5 separate regions of the Homo sapiens genome follow, and all the other regions are reported to be linked to region 3. Evidence: microRNA targets listed by miRTarBase, many of them from high-throughput screens and not tested one by one. Region 3 holds a microRNA gene; each other region holds the end of a gene's coding sequence. Distances are between the middles of the regions.
Evidence for each region. The annotated mature microRNA hsa-miR-4668-5p reads AGGGAAAAAAAAAAGGAUUUGUC and lies in region 3 at 2,919-2,941, opposite strand. An mRNA with a match to its seed (bases 2 to 7 or 8) in the 3' UTR can be bound and repressed. Matches are read on the target gene's strand: a 7mer-m8 pairs with bases 2 to 8, a 7mer-A1 pairs with bases 2 to 7 and ends in A, and an 8mer does both.

Region 1: the mRNA of IPPK is a reported target of hsa-miR-4668-5p. Seed matches in the 3' UTR shown: 7mer-A1 at 981-987 and 7mer-A1 at 1,426-1,432.
Region 2: miRTarBase lists MRI1 as a target of hsa-miR-4668-5p. Seed matches in the 3' UTR shown: 8mer at 712-719.
Region 4: the mRNA of NXT2 is a reported target of hsa-miR-4668-5p. Seed matches in the 3' UTR shown: 8mer at 1,706-1,713.
Region 5: miRTarBase lists KLHL18 as a target of hsa-miR-4668-5p. Seed matches in the 3' UTR shown: 7mer-m8 at 885-891 and 7mer-A1 at 3,083-3,089.

The regions. Positions count from the first base shown.
Region 1 is chr9:92,612,535-92,616,534 of GRCh38, reverse strand. It overlaps IPPK (inositol-pentakisphosphate 2-kinase), which reads left to right. Exons shown (of 13, transcript NM_022755.6): 13 at 478-3,352. The coding sequence ends at 703. It overlaps CENPP (centromere protein P), which reads right to left. Exons shown (of 8, transcript NM_001012267.3): 7 at 3,921-4,000; 8 at 1-3,516. The coding sequence ends at 3,386. Among named protein-coding and RNA genes, the nearest start is that of IPPK, 56 kb to the left of the region's middle.
Region 2 is chr19:13,771,757-13,775,756 of GRCh38, forward strand. It overlaps MRI1 (methylthioribose-1-phosphate isomerase 1), which reads left to right. Exons shown (of 6, transcript NM_001031727.4): 6 at 365-2,526. The coding sequence ends at 525. It overlaps C19orf53 (chromosome 19 open reading frame 53), which reads left to right and starts at 2,700. Exons shown (of 3, transcript NM_014047.3): 1 at 2,700-2,818; 2 at 2,896-2,951. The coding sequence starts at 2,722. RefSeq lists enhancers at 2,391-2,460, 2,531-2,730, 2,707-3,236, 3,237-3,765.
Region 3 is chr9:111,930,629-111,935,040 of GRCh38, reverse strand. It overlaps MIR4668 (microRNA 4668), which reads right to left and starts at 2,941; the gene lies at 2,872-2,941. UGCG (UDP-glucose ceramide glucosyltransferase) reads right to left here. Exons shown (of 9, transcript NM_003358.3): 7 at 3,684-3,770; 8 at 2,682-2,871; 9 at 1-2,214. The coding sequence ends at 2,044.
Region 4 is chrX:109,542,158-109,546,157 of GRCh38, forward strand. NXT2 (nuclear transport factor 2 like export factor 2) reads left to right here. Exons shown (of 4, transcript NM_001242617.2): 4 at 350-2,541. The coding sequence ends at 531. Among named protein-coding and RNA genes, the nearest start is that of NXT2, 7.3 kb to the left of the region's middle.
Region 5 is chr3:47,343,645-47,347,644 of GRCh38, forward strand. It overlaps KLHL18 (kelch like family member 18), which reads left to right. Exons shown (of 10, transcript NM_025010.5): 10 at 1-3,172. The coding sequence ends at 297. Among named protein-coding and RNA genes, the nearest start is that of PTPN23, 35 kb to the right of the region's middle.

The DNA of each region.
Region 1 (4,000 bases), 19 Mb from region 3:
CGACATTCCATCCATTTGGCGCTGGAATGGCCAGATCTACTTTTTACTTTTTGTTGGGTTTTGTAATACTTGGCTCATGATAAAGTGATTTTTCAGCGTTCGTTTATACCACTGGGCTGGGGGAACATCGCTCACATGTTCCACATAATTACTTTTCCATCTTTCAGTCCTTTAACCCTCTCTCGCCTGGTATGGTGGGGTGCACTGGCCTGAGGAAGCTTTGCACGCTGGTGCACACAGCCGGCACAGACAGCTGTCACACGCACAGATCACAGGTGCACAGAACGAGTGCTCTTTGTGAGCTGGGGTGTGAGGCCATTCACTTCTCTTTTAAAAGAGATTGATTTATCTAACTTTGCAGAAGTCAAAGAAAAAACATAAAAACATACTAGTTGAAAGAAGAAAGGGAGAGAGAACGGGAGGGAGGGAAATGAATGGGGGGCTTGTGTATCCTGAAATGGTACTTTTTACTTGCAGCTCTGATCAAAGGCCTGTCGTCCCTTCATCGAGGTCCAGGTTTGCCTTTTCCGTGTCTGTGCTGGACCTTGACCTCAAGCCCTACGAGAGCATTCCCCATCAGTATAAACTGGACGGCAAGATCGTCAACTATTATTCAAAGACTGTACGTGCCAAAGACAACGCCGTGATGTCGACTCGGTTCAAGGAAAGCGAAGATTGCACATTAGTTCTCCACAAGGTCTAACTCTTTCCCTGCAGTGTCTTTGAAACTTGAACATAATGTGAAGGCTGAATGATAGAGATATTTTCTGTTGTGTTGGGTGACCTTTGGTTGTGAATGTTTTTGCTTTTAACCCCTTTTGAGGTGGGATTGCCTCTTGGAGACATGGAATTGAAGAGCACTAGAAACAACTTCCTGGACAAGGAATGTAGGAAGTGAGTGCTGTGTCCCAGGAAGCTGCTCACACTCTTAAAATGGAAGTGTCCGTTAAGCCCTGGGAAGACGTTCTGGATAGTTCTTCTTTCCCAACCAGGGCTCATGTCTGATTCTCTAATGCGAAAAGCCTTATTCTAAGACCCAAGGTTTGGATCTGCTACCACCAGACTCCTAACATAGAAAACTTGAATTGTCACATACATTTTACAGTTTGGACTTTTAAGAAAACATGGATACTACTGGAACTTCCCCCAGCTGAGTTACATGGTCACTTTTTCAGTGCAAGCCACATATCAACACAGGTTTTTAGGTGGTTCCCTGCTGCACAGCGTGACCTCGTGGTCGCGCAGATGCCGATTCTGAGCAGTGTAGACTCAGGGTCCCTGTGGAGGTGCTGAAGCCCACAGTTCCACACAGGGCAGCAGGGAGCGCAAGGCTCAGGTCAGGATGGACACCACTCATGCGAGCATTGACCTTTTTTTTTTTGCTTTACAATTTAATCTTTCACATGAGGGGGAGATGAGCTGTTCTTTCCCACTAAAAATTGCTGCTGTAGAAGTTGGAGGTGGAGCTGTGACTGGCTGAGCTGCTGTGGCCGGGCTGGGCAGTGTGCCCCAACAGCTCAGTGCTTTCCTGACACTCCAGTGTCTGGGGTGGTTGAGGAGCGAGTTCTCTCTTCCTCCCAGACCAAGTTCCTCCCTCGGGTTTGCCTTGAGACGTGTTGCGTTTTTGGGCCCCGTGGCCTCTCCCTGTTAGGCTGCCACAGGCCCTGCTTCTGGAAGGTGAACAGCTCCTGGCTGCTGCCGAGAGGGTTCTCGTTGGGGTCACCAAAGTGTGCCCGGCTGCTATGAAAAACGTTGGGAATCTTGGTTTCAGTTTTTTATTCTATGCTAGGTTGTACAGACTTATTTATATCATCGTTTTGAGGGACTAATGGAGGCTTATTGTAACATATAATATTAGTGAAACCATGGAATTATATGAAAATGATACATGAGAAATAAGGAAACTATTTTGCTGATTGTAAATTTTTGTGGGAAATTTTGTGATAACTTGAGAATTATACTTGTTTGAATCAAGGCAACTCTTCTAGAATTTATTGTTCAATTCTGTCATATTTACTTCTAATTCTACTCTCAGAGGTGCAAAAAGATACTTATCTAACTGGACACTTTTACTGTTTTCTTCTCACTTCCAATGACACCGTCTCATACACACGGGTCCTGTGTGCTGGGATGGGGGCTTTGGTGAAGTGCACGGAGCTCACGGACAAGCCGCAGGCTCTGGGAAGCGTGGAGGTAGTGGCCGTTGAGTACTGTCTTGACCCAAGGGAGTTCACTGTTGCTGGGCTGGGGCTGGGGCAGCCTGGTTTGGGATGATTTTGCCCATTGTCACGGTGTGTGGAGGATGCTGGGTCCTGGGTTCAAGTGCACATGTGAGGGAACCCCAGTCCGTGGGAAGGTGGGCTGGGCTCCCTAGGTCCTTCAGGGCTGCAAGAGTTATTGCCTAGCACAGGGCCCAGACAGGGCTGGACTAGACACGATGAAAACAGCCTGTATTTGAGGGAGAAGAGAAAACAGATGGAGACCCCCACTCTGTCTGGTCTTGGCTCCCACCAGCCCGGGCTGTGAGGAGCCCCTGAGCCGCGGGTGCCACTGCTGTGGATGCGTTTCTGGCCCGTCTTGGAAACTGCTGCTGCTGCGTAGTCATGACGGCCCTGACTGGTTTGAGACAACACGCGTTCACAGATCTTAACAATGCTAAATGGGCGACTGATGAGGTCACGGTTCTTAAGGCACATCCGGGACGATCGATATAGCACTTAGGCTATGCAGGGGGGTCTTTCTTTCATAAAGGACCTCATTCCTTGCGTCCCAGCCCAGGAACAGTGCTGTCTTTGCTGTCTTAGGCCATTCTTGTTATTAAGCTGACAGCTTCACTTTCTTGTGGAAGACCAAGAACAGCATGAGGACTTGCTGAGACTGCCTCACGGTGCCACCATGCGGACCGGGGGGAGGCAGGGAGTGAGGGTGTGGCTCCCCTGGGCTACTAAGGACAGTTTAAAGATGAGGCGCCATAGGCATCCGTCTCCAGAGCCCCCAGGAGGCAGGAACCAGGATAAGGGTGGCTTCTCCCAGCTGAGTAATGTGGCCACCATGTCCAAGGTGGACTCGGTGTGAGGCTGCAGTGGGTGGGGGATGGATCCTCCCCACACATCTGAGGACACACAACCACTTGGTACATTTTCTCAGATGTTAAGCTTATTTTTATAAACCACATTGTACGTGTCACTTTTATTTGGCATTTTATACTTAACTAGTTGTATTTATTTTTCATGTCATGAGAGTTTCCATATAATGTGCCATAACTGCATAGACAGCACGTCTTCAGGGTGTGGTTTCTAAGCAGAAAATAGCAAATGTTTATATTGAATAAAATTGCATGTTCCTCCACGCAGCATCTTCATCCTCCACGTTCACTGTTTTGGAACTAGTTGTTCTCCTCTGCACAAAGCGATTTTATCAGGCTTTCCAGAGCAGCTTCGATTCCAAGCAGTCCTACCAGGGTTCGGAAGCTGAGAGGAGCAGTTTCTATGGCTCTGTTCTTGTCCAGCTCCAGGGCTATAAAGAAAACATTAAACCGGGTAAGAAACTTCAAGGTGGCAGCTTTTGGTCTTTTGTTTTCTGCTGGCATGGACCTCACCAAGACCCCGCACTCCTCCCGACTAGCTGCATGGGATGGGACATGCTAGTGGCGGGCGAGGAGATGGAGTGAGTGGAGGCCTCACCTACGGCTGGAGGCATATTCCCTGTGCATTCAGCCTGGGAGGGCCTTGGGGCAGCAATCCCTTTTCATGTTCTTTTTGAGTGATTATTGATAAAAATATTTAAAAATTGATAGACAAAGTACATTAATGAGATTTCCAATTTTTGATTCTTGCCCTTTGAAACCCAGAGGAAACAGGCAGGCGGCTTTGCTGGGCATGTTGAGAAGTCACCTAGAGCAGCCACACCCAGGGCCCTACCTCGCTGTGGGACTTTGGTGAGAAGATCCAGCTTTGGAAAAACCTTCCCATCTTCATCTATTTGTATCCTCCAAACAATG
Region 2 (4,000 bases), not on the chromosome of region 3:
GAGGCAGGAGAATTGCTTGAAACCTGGGAGGTGGAGGTTGCAGTGAACCAAGATCGTGCCATTGCACTCCAGCCTGGGCAACAAGAGCAAAACTACATCTCACAAAAAATAAAAAAATAAGTGGCATAGATGTGTATAGGACTTTGAATTTTTCTTGGGGACTGACATTCTAGGGGCAGTGGCGAGTCTAAACTTACTATTGAGTACAATGTCCATGCCTGCATGTACTTTTGGGGTGAGAATCCTCAGGTTCTCAAGGACTCCCCAACTCCAAGAACCACTGTGGTAGAAACAGATGACTACAACCTGAGAACTTTCACAGAAGCAAATTCTTGCCTCCTTGCCTCCCCTCTCTCCCCTGCAGGGATTGGAGTTTGGAATCCTGCCTTCGATGTCACCCCCCACGACCTCATCACTGGTGGCATCATCACAGAACTGGGGGTCTTTGCCCCTGAGGAGCTCCGGACAGCCCTAACCACCACCATCTCTTCCAGGGATGGAACCCTAGATGGACCCCAGATGTAACCAACTCAGCTCTCCCTAGCCTGCCTCTCTAGGTTTTTCAATACATTTCTTGAATGGCTACCCAAAAGCTGACCGTCCAGCCCCTGACCACACTTGTTCCTAGTGCAGGGAGCTCAGACAGGGCCTTCCATCTAGAGCCCAGCACCTAGAGCCAGGCTGCCCAGATTCAAATCCTGACTCCGCCACTTTTCCCACTGTATGATCTTGGGCAAGTCACTTCACCTCTCTGTGCCTTGGTTTCCTCATTTATAAAATGTGGATAACAGGCCGGGCGCAGTGGCTCACACCTGTAATCCCAGCACTTTGGGAGGCCGAGGCAGGTGGATCACAAGATCAGGAGATTGAGACCATCCTGGCTAACATGGTGAAACCCCATCTCTACTAAAAATACAAAAAATTAGCCGGGTGTGGTGGTGGGCACCTGCAGTCCCAGCTACTTGGGAGGCTGAGGCAGGAGAATGGCGTGAAACTGGGAGGCAGAGCTTGCAGTGAGCCGAGATAGCGCCACTGCACTCCAGCCTGGGCAACAGAGCGAGACTCCGTCTCAAAAATAAATATAATTAATTAATTATTTAATTAAAAAAATAAAAAATAAATGTGGATAATACTAGTACCTCCCTCTTAAGGTCAGGGCTGGAGCTAGGGTGACATCTCCAGGGCAGAATTTTAAGAGGACACCAAAAAAGCTCAGCAACCAAGATAAAAAATATTTTAAAGCAATATTTTGTTTTGGGTTTTTTTTTTTTGAGATCAAGTATCACTCGTTACCCAGGCTGGAATGTAGAGGCGAGATCTCAGCTCACTGAAACCTGTGCCTCCCCGGTTCAAGCGATTCTCCTGCCACAGCCTCCTGAGTAGCTGGGATTACAGGCATGCGCCACCATGCCCAGCTAATTTTTCTATTTTTAGTAGAGACATGATTTCACCATGTTGGCCAGGCTGGTCTCGAACTCCTGACTCAAATGATCCCCCTGCCTCAGCCTCCCAAAGTGCTGGGACTACAGGCATGAGCCACTGTGCCTGACCTTACAGCAGTATTTTTTAAAAATCAAAATTAATGCAAAAATCCATGATGAGGCCAGGCTTGGTGGCTCATGCCTGTAATTCCAGCACTTTGGGAGGATCCCTTGAGCCCAGGTGTTTGAGACCAGTTTGGGTAACATAGGAAGAGCTTGTCTCTACAAACAAAAATTTAAAAACAATGAGCTGGGCATGGAACTCACACCTCTAGCCCCAGCTACTCAGGCTGAAGTGGGAGGATGGCTTGAGCCCAGGAGTTCAAGGATGCAGTGTGCTTTGATTGCACTACTGCACTTCACCCTAAGCAACAGAGTGAGACCCCATCTCTTTAAAAAAAAAAAAAAATCCATGATGAACAAAACAAGTATTTGTTTGAGACGGGGTCTCGCTCTGTCGCCCAGGCTGGAGTACAGTGGTGCCATCTCAGCTCACTGCAACCTCCGCCTTCTGGGTTCAAGCGACTCTCCTGCCTCAGCCTCCCGAGTAGCTGGGATTACAGGAGCCTGGCACTATGCCTGGCTAATTTTTGTATTTTTATTGGAGACACCATGTTAGTCGTGGCTGGTCTCCAACTCCTGACCTCGGGTGATCCGCGCCCCGCGGCCTCCGAAAGTGCTGGGATTACAAGCGTGAGCCACCGTGCCCGGCCTAAATAAAATTTTGAAGAGGCTAGAACCCCGCACTTGTGCCTTGAGCTTACTGACCTCAACACCCTGGTTCCACTAAAACTTTATTTACAAAATTATGCTGCCGGTCTGCAGGATGTAGTTTAACAATTTGATTATTTTGGATATTAAAATATTTTTTAAGTCTTGAAAATATTGTTTACTATTACCAAAGTTTTTGAACCTTCTTAAATTCTGTACCAGAGGTGAGTGCCACACCCTAACCTAGTCTGAGTTTTTATGTGTAAAGATCATAAAACGTTGTAAGTTTTCTAAAACACATAAGCTCTCAATAAACGTTAGCTTATCATTGTCACCGTTTTGTTCGTAATGTTTGAAAACTCCAACTGTGATCCACTACACTACCCTTGTGGGATGCTGTCTCTTTAACTCTGTGCCACGTTGTATCCCGTGAGTTCTTGCGTTTTTCCGCCCCGCTGTATCCCATGGTTCCCTGTGCCTTCCGGCTACGACTGCTCACAGTCCCGCCTCTTCCGCTGCGTGCCGGACCATGGCGCAGGGGCAGCGCAAGTTTCAGGCGCACAAACCCGCAAAGAGTAAGACGGCAGCGGCAGCCTCTGAAAAGAATCGGGGCCCAAGAAAAGGCGGTAAGGAGCGGCCCGGGGACTTGGGGGCGAGGTGGACCCCCGGCTTCCCGGCCTCACGTGAGCACATCTTTCCCCAGGTCGTGTTATCGCTCCCAAGAAGGCGCGCGTCGTGCAGCAGCAAAAGCTCAAGAAGGTGTGCGGGGGCGAGAGATGGAGCCCGGAGGGCGGCGAGTAGCGAGGGGTGGAACCCGGAGGACGGCGAGGGGGGATGGGTGGAGCCCGGGGATCAGTGAGGGGAGAGGGTGGATCCTGGGGACGAGCTAGGAGCGAGGGGATAGAGCCAGGGGCCGCGTTAGGAGCGAAGGATGGAGCCCGGGGCGCAGAGAGGGGTAAGAGGTGGAAGCTGGCGAGGGATAGGGGCTGGGGGACGTGCTAGGGACGAGAGATGAAATCTGGAGGCCGGCGAGGGAAGGAGCACAGGGATCGGCAAAGGGCAAGGGATGAGGCCTGGAGGACTCCCAGCTCTGTGGGCCTCCCTTTTCTTCCTTGTGCAAGGGGTGCAGGAACACCACTTACCACTTCAAAAGGGCCTCGTAGAAGCAAGACCTGCGGCCCAAAAAGGGTTCCAATAACGTCAGCCTCTTGCTGTTACTGTTTTCTTTAATTGAACTCAGGAAGACAGCGAGGTGACATGGGAAGGGAATTGAAAGCCCAGCTTTGTAAACCTAGAACAGCAGAGGGCTCAAAGAAGTGTGAGGGTGCGTTGGTTATCGTCATTTTTTTTTGAGTCAGGGTCTCACTGTTGCCCAGGCTGGAGTGCAGTGGCCCCATTATAGCTCACTGCAGCCTCAGCCTCCTGGACTTAGGCAATCTTTCCGTCTCAGCCTCTCGAGTAGGTAGAATTGCAGGTGCTCGCCAATACGCGGCTAATTTTATTTTTTTTGTATTTTTGGTAGAGACAGGTTTCACTATGCTGCTCGGGCTGGTCTTGAACTCCTGGCCTCAAGGCATCCTCCCGCCTCTGCCTCCCAAAATGCTGGGATTACAGGCGTGAGCCACCCTATGGTTGTTTTTAAGTGCAACATTTATATGTAGATGGGTAAGGTTGAGCTTGTAAAGAAGTTGGAAGGAGATTTAAAACTGGTTTTGGTGGGAGTCAAACCTGGGTTTGAATTGTACTCCACAGTAAACAGCCCTGTGATCTTGAGCAAATTGTTTCGTCACCCCAGAGTGTCGGTTTTC
Region 3 (4,412 bases):
TGTTACACTGTCCATACTGAGATCAGCAGAGAGCTAAGTAATACACAAGATTACGCTTCGGCAGTGCAAAGGATGGCATCAACCAAACTTCATTAAACAGACCAACAAGTACAAACATGGTGAGCAAAGTTCAACTCAGGTAATAGTGATTAAAAACAAAACATGTAGTGGGTCACAACCAGACTGGTTTTCACTGTGCAACTTTCCTCAGGGAATAATACCCATTCACAGAAAGAAAGGAATATGCATCCAAGCCTTTGTTCATAAAGAAAATGCCCTTCAAACAAATTCATCATAAGGCTAAAAAAAAAAAAAAAGAAAGAAAAAAGGATGAAGCAGTTTGGCCCAGAGAAAAGCTTAAATATAATGTGTATACATACTTATAGATATGTTGCCATTTAAACCATGGATATAGACATTTGACAATTAAATGAATTGGCTCAGTAAAGTGAAAAAGTGTTTTCTATAAATATGTAGTTATTGCTGATATGCTACACATTATGCTTTGACATGGAGACTGTAGTAACTCAGAATTTAAAGCTGCCATATTGCCAGTGTTAGCCCTGCAGTAGGCATTCCTGTGGACAACATGCCATCCAATCCTGAAGAAAAAGCAAAACACCACTACTTAACAAAGAAAAGGCTTATGCACTGTCCCTTACATTTTTGTTTTTTTTTTTTAAAAAAACAAAACAAAACAGAATCAAGTCCAGTTCACCACAAGTTAAGCACAACCTGGCGAGCAAGTTTAGCGGCATGATGGGGAGAAAACAGTGAGGTACAGCATGCATTTACAACCAGCGCTGATCTAGTCTATTTTGTCATATAAACTTGAATACAAAAATCCAATTTAAATAAGACTAGACTTACTATAATAGTAAACAAACAAAAACAAAAAACAAAAAAAAAAAACACACACAGTAGACTTAGTTTGATACTGATTAATTTTAAGAGTAAACTCATCCTGTCCCCTCTTAATACTCTACTGCAATTTATTGATGGCTAGAATATTTACTGACTTAAAAAAGGTATTAAATACTTGTATCATGAAATTACATTCTTATTAACAATAAGACATACTGTGTAAGAAAATAGCTCATGTGTGAAATGTGTCTGAAATGCATTTTTTCCTTACAACTATCAAAACATCCACTCACACTAAAATGAAACCACTCCCAACCCCCCCTGAAAAAATGTTAAGGGAAGACGGGGTGGGCTGGGGGAGGAGCAAGGAAGGAAAAGATTTAGCTATACTAATTACAGCACAGTGATTAACAATGGTTCAAGACAGAACCAACAAGAGTTGGTCAAAAAGATGCCTTCAATACATGGCTACAATTAAAAACCAAACTCAGCCGCTTTTGGTTCATTGCAGTGAGACCAAAAAAATTATCTCTCACAGATTCATATAAATACTAGACTCCAGCTCTTATATCATTTTTTTTTAAGTTTTTCTGTTTGTTTCTGCAAGGCCTAGCTATCTTATTACAATTTATATTTGCTCTGCAACAACTACAAGAGGTAGGCATAAAGCATGAAAAAGTTTCTCAGTTAGTACCTCGCCATGTGTTGTTCACTGCACAAAACCATTCACTTTGGACATGAATAGTCATTCCTTCTATTATCTTCTAAACTCTAAAGCAAAGCTGCTGCCACCCGTAAATGTTCTAAAAGAGTGTACTCACAAGTAAGAAACTTTCTCTACTGAAGGATACTGTCACAGAGTTTGTTGCAGAGCATCTATATATATATTTATTTATTTATTTTAAAAAAATAAACAACAATGATGAACGAACCCAGGTTCCTAGAACCAATTCTCTTGATTCTCTACTTCCACAAAATAAAGTGTATCATTTGGCCAAGACTACAGATGTGTTTTTTTTTTTTTTCACAGATGCAAGTGCCATGCAAAAATAAATTAAAGAACAGATACCAAAACATACATGTGATAAAACTACAGAAGGTAGATTTTTAAAAGCATTTATATAAACATAATTTATAATACTTCTCTTTTTTCCTTTATATACAGTCACAAAGCTGTAGTTATACATCTAGGATTTCCTCTGCTGTACCCCCACAGCGTAATCTGTAGCGACCAGTTCTCCAGCTTATAGTTGGGTCCCATAATGCAGACAAAAAAATGTATATTGTCATGGATTCGCGGATGAACCAGGCGACTGCATAATCAAGTTTTGAAAAACACAGTGTGCCACCCTAGGAATGGAAAAAAAAATTTTTTAATTTCACTCACTGTCAAACTAAAGACAAGGTTAAAAAATTAAATTCTTGGATTTCACTTTTCTAAGTATACTATGTAAAATCAAGTCTGCTTCCTTATGTAATTTAACTGCCATGTTATACCGTTCAAGAAAATGCTAATTGTTAATGAAGCATTAAAATAACTGCTATCTTAATGTCTTATTAGTTTCAATACTCACTGATTTAATTAACTTCATGTTTTTGGAAACTTAATAAAAGCGATTATATAACCAATAGAAAGTTGCAAATCGACTTAAGTTTTGCATCAACATTCCACTAGAGAAAGTCATGTTCAAACCCGAGACTAACCTACAATGGGAAGCTGAAGAATGGCTCAGATACATTTCCTTCAACTTTTTCTAAATTGAAATAGTTCTAGTTCCACCAAGGGACTGCCAACCTTTTCATGCCTATCCACATACCTGGACACCCCTGAGTTGAATGTAGTCAAATATAAACCATGCCAGGCAATGACACATGAAAAATACCATAATATCCCATCTGAACACATGGTGGGCTGCCCATCCAATAATTAAACTGGCAACAAAGCATTCTGAAATTGGCTCACAAATTATTGTAGCAGGAAGCATGTTAATTCGTAGTTTGGTCCACCTGGAAAAACAAAAAGGATTTTCTTTAAAACAATATCCTGGCTACAAGACAAATCCTTTTTTTTTTCCCTCAAATAATCAATTTTTTTACCCTGTGATAGAAAGACCATTCTCTTTAAACTTTTTTTGTTTTGTTTTTTTTTTTTTACTTGAGACGGGGTTCTGCTCTGTCACCCAGGCTGGAGTGCAGTGGCACTCACTGTAGCTTCAATCTCCCAGGCTCAAGCGATCTTCCCACCTCATCCCACCAAGTAGCTGGGACCACAGGTGTACACGCCACCACACCTGGCTAATTTTTGCATTTTTTGTAGAGACAGGGTTTCACCATTTTGCCCAGGCTGGTCTCAAACTCCTGGGCTCAAGCAGTCCTCTCGCCTTGGCCTCCCAAAGCGCTGGGATTACAGGTGTGAGCCACCACACACAACCTAAAAATTTTTTTTAATGACTCTCTTTTCTATTTTTGTCTAGGATGTCAAAGAAAAATGTCTTTAAATTCATTTGTATGGCCTACGCTCTGATGAATACAGATAATAAAATTTAATCAGCACAGAAAGTTAGAAAATAAAGATCAGCATATTAAAAAATTCAGTCTCAACATTTCTCTAATGAGTGCTTTCAGTGTTATACAGCAAATAAAATACATTTAGACATTAAATTTATCTTAAACACAGACGTTAAACTCTATTTTCTGCAACTAAACAAAAATCTTCAACCTTTAGGTACATTCATTTAACTACATTAAACCTGTAAAAATTACCACCCCCCTCCCCACTTTCCTTTTAACGAAGTATAAAAAGAAAACAGTTGATTTACCTGATCATTCTGGATTGAAACTGAGAAATTGAATATGAGCCAGAGTTTTGCATTGCAACTTGAGTGGACATTGCAAACCTCCAACCTCTGAAAATTAAGATAATTAGAAAATAAGTTATGATGATGAACACATGCAAGCGTAACTGGTTATGCATTCAGTAATCATTATAAAGACCAGGCAACTGCCGGTATTCAGGGTGAGCCCAGCTTTCATGATTAGCACATGACTTAAGGTCTACCATACGTATGGATGTTTTAGCAATTATGCTGGCCCGTGACAGCACCATCTAAGAACTAGAAGAAACTGTACCCACCTTACTTTACAATTTAAGAAACTTAAAATGCAGTCATTTTGAAAAAAAATGGAGAGGGCTCCATATTTAATAGATTAGTCTCTGATGACTACTAACCAAACAACAAGACATGTAAACAGAAAGTGGCATTATGGATCTCATGGGAGACACTAGGAAACCATGAACCACATGAACACAATCATGACAGAATTTGTATTTAAAACACACTTCAGTTTTTAAAAAATTTAAAAGAATTCTCACACAAGGCAGTGATCTCCTTTAAAAACAAGTATTTTAGGCTGGATGCAGTGGCTCATGCCTGTAATCCCAGCACTTTGGGAGGCTGAGGCGGGCGGATCACGAGGTCAGGAGTTCAAGACTAGCCTGGCCAACATGGTGAAACCCCGCCTCTACTAACATACAAAAAAAAGTAGCT
Region 4 (4,000 bases), not on the chromosome of region 3:
CAATAGTTTAAGAAGCAAAGCATGAATAAGCTCTGTTAGAAACCTGAAATATTAATTCTGAAATATTTATATATATATGAAGCAAATGGTCCTATGCTAGATATAAGCTCCTCATTTTGAAACTAGAGTATCCCAAAGTTTTCTGGACTGAAAATAATTTTAATATCTTTTACTAAGTACTTAGTTTTCTGGGTTTGAGTATGCATGCTTAAGATTATGCTCAAGGGACAGAAAGTGTATGAAAAAAATTTTAAGCATTAGTCCATAAACAATGTATTTTAAGCCTGAAAATCTGCTTATTTAGAGATAGAAAATGATGTGTTCTCTTTTTTTTTTAATGTGGATGAAGAGCAAGCAACTCAGTCCCAAACTACAGTTCTTGTTGTGACCAGTGGAACTGTGAAGTTTGATGGAAACAAACAACATTTCTTCAACCAGAACTTCCTGCTGACTGCTCAGTCCACTCCCAACAATACTGTGTGGAAGATTGCAAGTGATTGCTTCCGTTTTCAAGATTGGTCTAGTAGTTAAAGGGGCAAAAGTCCATTCTCATTTGGTCCATTAGTTCCAGCAATTGAAATTTATGTGAATTATTTTGATTGTAGAAGCACTATAATATGTGCTGAAACTAAATTTCTTTAATATTTTCTATTCCTGTCAGCACCTTTTCTAGCAGCTGCCAGTTTGGAGCATTGCCCTCTAAGAGCTTTAAAACTATTTTTTTACATGCCTTATATACATTCCACTAATGACATTCTTATAATAATATTAAACACATGATCTTGGTACTAACATACTCACTGTGAACCCAGCCTATTGCAAAAATAAAATCTTTTTATAATATTATCTATGGGATGTCAGCACAATATAACACTCTGGGAAGAAGTGGAGTTTTTTGGTTATTAGGTTAATTTTCTAGTAAAACACGTTGCCTGTTTTCAGTTAACACTGGTAATGCCATTTTAATATATGGCTTTTTCAAATCAGTTCAGTGAAAATAGTACAGATTTAGGTTTACATAACTACTCTGACATACTGGAATTGCATATAGAGATGTTCAGTGGTCGTTTTTCATTTTAAGTAATTTTTGTTTTGGCATTTTTTTGTGTGAAGTAAATTAATCAACTAGAGAGGTGCAAAACGTTCTCAGTTGATATCTGAGTATTGGGTGCATTTGGTGGCTTAAAAGCAAAGCTTCCTAAAAAGATTTTTCTTGGCAGCTCCAGGTCTATACATTTAGGTAATGAATGGTAGTAGAACTAATAGCTTTAACAGGAGAATAGGGAATGAGAAATAGAAATCCAAGGCTGAAGCCAAAAGTAAGGAGGGTGGCCAAATGGTAAACTATTGGTACTTGTTTTCTACCTCCTAAAAATGTAGCTTATTTTTAGGATTTAAATCACTAAGTAAATAAGTATCCTTGCCAAGTGATCATGAGTGTCATTTTTGTTCTAAGACTAATATTTTTAGATCTTTTTACTTCACCTCATACTTATCACCAATGTATATCTCCATTTATTCAATAACTTACTGGGGTAAAATAACAGCAATAAACCTAACCTTTTAACAGGGTCTAACATGAGAGTTGGAGTCAAAGCCATTGTTATCTTTTGGTGACACCCTTAAATTTTAAGTCTTCCAGTCTTCCATGTGAACTTTAGGCCCAAAGTTTCTTATGTATCACACATCCCCCAAATAAGTGATTTTTTCCCAGTGCTTTGTACTGTCAACTGCATTATCTTTAATTATTTAAAGGTAGAATTATTTAATTTTGTGATTTGTTCTTCCATATGACATTGAGCAAATAGATCTGTTTCAAAATATGTTCCCGCTATGTGGATAACTCTTCTTTTTAAAAAGAAAATAGAGAATAGCAAATCTTCATGATAATCCTCAAAAGAACAAAATGCTTAACTTTATCTCTTAATTTCTAAAGGTAAATAACCTAGGTTCAGCTTTTGCTTAAACATTAAATATCTTTTCCATTTTTTAATGTTTGTAAGCTAGATATGCCAGCTTTGTTTCTACATTGCAACCAAAAACTGTTTCTTTTCACTTAATTATAAAACCAGTAATTCATTTACTCTTGCCCAAAACTATACACTGTATTTCTGTTATAGTAACAAAATAGAGTTATGTAGAATTGTATGGAACTCAAATTTAAACCATGCTTTCTTGTAGTACTGATTGAAACTTACACGTTTTATTCTACTCATAGTGAGCTTATTCTTATTTTGGATTGATTTTCCAAAACCACAGCTTCAGCAGCAACAATCAGAATGTCCAAATGCTGTCCTTTCCCTTACAGAGAAGAACAATGGTAACTAAAAGCTGCATATAACTAGCAATAACTACATTGAACGGTGTGCATTGTTCATGATTGTTGTGTTTTAAGACTTGTATATAAACTGCTTTTTCCAAACTCTGTATAACTTTTAAATGGCTGGAACTACTCGTATAAGGACTAGACTGTATTTTTGACATGCTCCTATTTTTGTAACTTGAAAAAATAAAATTTTGCCTTGTGACAGATTTTCTCAAGATTGTTTTAAGGTCTTTTGATTTTTGTTCTTAGGTTTCAGAATGGTTACTTGTTTCTTTACAATATAAGGTTTTTTAAATTTAGAAAAAAATTACAGTAGTGTGTTGACAACAATGGTTAACAACTTGGATCTTCTTTTGGTTCTTTCTGTAACCTGCCACATCTGTCTCCTTTTCCTGCCAATTATTCACATTCCTGAGATCATCACTTGTTTGAGATACCTGTAGGTTTTTGGTGAGAAGTTGGAAATCTTAACCTTGAGAAACCAGCTAAAATGCTATATTCGATAGGCAGTGAAACCAAAATACAGTTGATTTCCAGAAAGAATGGTTCATTAAATTTAATTCTACATTAAAAATATGTCAACACTACTGGGTAAATAACGAAATGAAGGCAGAAATAAAGATGTTCTTTGAAACCAATGAGAACAAAGACACAACATACCAGAATCTCTGGGACACATTTGAAGCAGTGTGTAGAGGGAAATTTATAGCACTAAATGCCCACAAGAGAAAGCAGAAAAGATCGAAAATCGACACCCTAACATCACAATTAAAAAAACTAGAGAAGCAAGAGCAAACACATTCAAAAGCTAGCAGAAGGCAAGAAATAACTAACATCAGAGCAGAACTGAAGGAGATAGAGACACACACACACAAAAAAAAACCCTTCAAAAAATCAATGAATCCAGGAGCTGGTTTTTTGAAAAGATCAACAAAATAGATAGAGTACTAGTAAGACTAATAAAGAAGAAACCCCTGTGGGAGGCAATTAATTCAAAGAGAACTACAAACCACTGCTCAACGAAATAAAAGAGGACACAAACAAATGGAAGAACATTCCATGCTCATGGATAGGAAGAATCAATATTGTGAAAATGGCCATACTGCCCAAGGTAATTTATAGATTCAATGCCATCCCCATCAAGCTACCAAGAACTTTCTTCACAGAATTGGAAAACACTGCTTTAAAGTTCATATGGAGCTAAAAAAAGAGCCTGCATTGCCAAGACAATCCTAAGCAAAAAGAATAAAGCTGGAGGCATCATGCTACCTGACTTCAAACTATACTACAAGGCTACAGTAACCAAAACAGCATGGTACTGGTACCAAAACAGAGACATAGACCAATGGAACAGAATAGAGCCCTCAGAAATAATAACACACATCTACAACCATCTGATCTTTGACAAACCTGACAAAAACAAGAAATGGGGAAAGGATTCCCTACTGGTGCTGGGAAAACTGACTAGCCATATGTAGAAAGCTGAAACTGGATCCCTTCCTTACACTTTATACAAAAATTAATTCAAGATGGATTAAAGGCTTAAATGTTAGACCTAAAACCATAAAAACCCTAGAAGAAAACCTAGGCAGTATCATTCAGGACATAGGCATGGGCAAGGACTTCATGACTAAAACACCAAAAGCAGTGGCAACAAAAGCCAAAATACACAAA
Region 5 (4,000 bases), not on the chromosome of region 3:
AGCAAGATGTTTGTCTGCGGGGGCTACGATGGCTCTGGCTTCCTCAGCATTGCCGAGATGTACAGCTCTGTGGCAGACCAGTGGTGCCTGATTGTCCCCATGCACACGCGCAGGAGCCGGGTCTCCCTGGTGGCCAGCTGTGGGCGCCTCTACGCTGTTGGGGGCTACGACGGACAGTCAAACCTAAGCTCAGTGGAGATGTATGACCCAGAGACAGACTGCTGGACATTCATGGCCCCCATGGCGTGCCATGAGGGAGGGGTCGGTGTGGGCTGCATCCCTCTCCTCACCATCTAAGGCAGAGGATGGGATGTGGTGGGGCAGGGATCTGGTACAGACATAGGCGCTTCCTTCCAGGAACAGTCCCTCAGGAGAGGCAGTGGACCAGAAGAGATGGCGAAACGTGAGCTCGCCGGAGGTACAGTTTTTCCAGGTGCTTAAGCCCTCCCCCACTGTGCCACCCTTGTGACCTTCAGGCTTGGGTCATCAAGATGCACAGCATGGAACACAAGCTCCTCTGGATCCTGCAGCTGGTGACATGGAACTGTTTTCTGGTCCACATGAACACAGGCTCCATCCAGGCCCAGCTCCTACCCACCGCCTCTCTGTGGGCCAGCTGTTCACAGAAGGCCTTCCATCTGATGCTCCCCATCGCCTGCTTGCTCTCCAGCCGAGTCTGGCCAATTTGCCATGGGGAGGCTGCAGTGTCCAAGCCTGCTGGAAACTGGGATGTAGCTGGGGACGAAAGGACAGACCCAAGCGTTCTCCCTGCCTGAGATGGTGTGGCCACAGCAGTGGAAGGCTGCACACAGGCACATTCCTTCTTCCACAGTGGGGCACCAAGGATTCTGTCCTCATTGCTGGGTAAGCAGGGAGAAGAGAAGTTTTCCCCATGTCTAATTTTGGGATTTCAGTGAGGCCTTTTGATCTGTCCAGGAGAACAGAAGGGAAAAAAAGATACTTGAAAGAAACTGAAGGAAATTTAAACAAAGAAACACTTGAAAGAAACTGGAAAGAAAAATAATTTTTTTATGTGAACAAATTTTGCAAGAAGAAAAAAGCATAAAAGACACTAACGGCAAATCTATGTTTAAATGGAAAATCGTCTAACTGGAGAAGGGCGGTATCCACCCCACATTCGGATCCCAGGGTCCTGAGGCCTCGCATTGAGCTGGGGGTTCCCTCTGAGCCCCAGTGTGTGTGGAATCAGTGCACTCTTGACTGGGCCTGTAGTAAGGTGCTCATGGGGTTTGTCTTCTCACCCACCATCAGAGGACTTTTAAAATCATAGGCGTAGAGAGTTAGGCTATCTGCTGAATTACTGCCACTCTTCTTGGTGGGGGCTCCTAGCTGTGGCTGGGGGCTCCAGGCGCCCCTGTGATTACCTCCTACTGCCACCATGGCGCTCATTCAGATTCCCCACTCTCACTAACATTGCTTCCTTTTTTGACCAGCAGGAAACAGCAGGTCTGGCCAGATTCTCACTTGCCCATCAATCTCGTTCTTGGATGATTTCCCTCATTGTGATGCTTCTGGGGCACGTTGACCATATGCACCTCTAGAACCTAACCAGGGCTTCCTTCTACCAGCTGTGGGCGGGCTTGGTCTGGTAACCTTGTCTGCTCTGCCATTCCACTGCTCCTCCATCCACTCGCCAATCCCAAGAGTCTGGCCTCCCTCCAGCCCTGGGCAGACTGACCAGCAAGGTGGACCTTTACATTCAAGCACAGCTGGCTTTTATGACATAAAGAACTAAAGGCCGAAAGAATCTCTTGCTGCTGCAAAGAACAGATTTTATATTTCTTCCTCTAATCTTGGCAAATGACCTTTACCTTTTGGAAAGATTTCATATTGCTTCCTCCTCCCTGGATAGGACCTAATGTAGCACAGCGGGACTCAAAGAGGAGGACATTTTCTCTTGCCAGTGCACTGGGCAGTGGGGCTGTCCTTCAACTGCTGCTGCCAAAATTGGTTTTCTAAAATTCTTCCAGTAGAGACTAAAAGAAGATTCAATTCCTGTAACCCAAGACTGAGTCTTAGGGCTCCAGTCTCCACCTGCTTGGTTTCCTATCCTTTGCTGCCTGCCTGGGGTGGCCTGGAAGCCTGTTCAGAAAGGCACAATGTGGAGCCTGGGGTGTCTCCCCCACCCCAGGACCGTCAGGTTTACCAGTGTGTGCAATCGCCATGTATTCAGAGGGAAGTACCTTTGTTACCTACAACTTAGGAGCTAGGCCTCTGCTACAAGCACTTGAAAATGATATTTTTATTTTTAACGTCTCAACAATCTGATATCGGATGTCGTTTAACCTGGGCTCGTGGTAGGGCTCCAGCATTTCTCCCTCCTTCCTGGTTTGCCTGTAGGGGTAGACTCGGAAGGTGGGTGGGGTGTGCATTTCCTGTTAGGAGTGTATCAGTGCTTGTCTTATTATAAGCCCCTTTCTTTTGTGAATTTGAAGTAGCACCAACAAGCCTGGATTGTGAAGGTATTAAGAATCGGTCTGTGGGCTACTGAGTGGGTCCTTAGGATACTGGCCCAGATTTTGCCACTGGGTATGGCAGATCATTTTCTACCATGGCCTGCTGCTCTTGTAGTGGACTTCCTGAGTCCAATCCCACCTCCTGGTGTAGAATTTACACTGCTGCACCTGAGGTCGATGTTTCAAAGTAAGATCAAGCCAGTGTTTTGATCTGGGCTCTGAGCACAAGTCAGGAAACACCAACATATTCACACTCTCCCAGTAGGTTCCTCAGTCCGATGGTGAATGGCTATTCGTAAATGGCTGGTCTGGCTCTTTGGTGTTGGAGCCTTTCCAATAGCCCCATGAAAAGAAGCATCACCCAAGGATATTGTAAAAAGGATGTAACAAGGAGATAGGGTAGACATTGTACTCAGTGGGCCTTGGGGCCTAGCCCAGCTCTGAGCAGAGGACTGTGGCATTCACTGTCCTTGAGTGTTTCACCTTCTTGGATAACACACGGGCCTTCTCTTCTGGATTTCATCAGAGATTACAGCCAGATGGGGGCTGAAGACCATCCTCTTGACCACAGAGGTGTGACTGTGGGAATTCCTCCCAATTTATGGTTTCCCAGAAAATCTTAGTTCCTTTTATTTATAGAATGCATGTCTTTTGTGTTAAGAAACCAAAGAGAAATAAAGAGAACACTCCTAATAGCTCTTGTCCTTTCTTGGTTTATTTCTCAGATATTAGAAGTACATGTTTGTTTTTTAATTGTGATTCACTGAAAAAAATATATTGGACAAAATGGGAATATTTCTGTGAATATAAGGGAAAAGCCAGATGTACAGCAAAAGTAGTCTTTGGAGAGATTTATTTTATGAGAGTCACTTCTGGTGAAAAATATGCAAAGACTTCATTTGCACTTTGGGACTGCATATTGGTGCCTGTCCTGATCGCCCCTACTCTCGGATTTCCCCTTTTCTCCATTCACTGCCCTAAAACTCCAGAGTTTCCCAGTGGAATGTGGCTGCCTGTTGACTGCCTGGAATCAGCATCTCCAGCTCCTTTTTTATGCTCTAGGCGAGAGGTGCTTTAACTTTGGTGCACATAAAAGTCACTGGAAAATGTTTAAACCACAGATCCGTTCCTAAGTCCCTCTCTAGAGACAGGTTCCCTAGGGCTGGGGTGCAGCTCAGCATTCTGGCGTGAGCAAGTTTCCTTGGTGATTTGCATGCTCTTCAGTGTGAGAACTATACTCCCATCTTCAGTTTCACTTCCCCAAATACAGCCGCATTCCAGATCTGCTCTTCCAAGATTACACTGTGGTTAGTGTGGTTTTGCCTGTTGGGAAACTCTTCAGTCACACTTTTCCAAAAGTCAGCTTGTGATCAATCTTGTCCATTGGACTCCTGGATGGCAACTTAATTTTTTTAAGTTTTTGGAAGGCATATCACTCCCACACACACCCCACCAGGACATGTCTTACATATAAACACTCTTATCAGTTGAATCTCACATGGTCCTCAGTAATCCCCACGGAG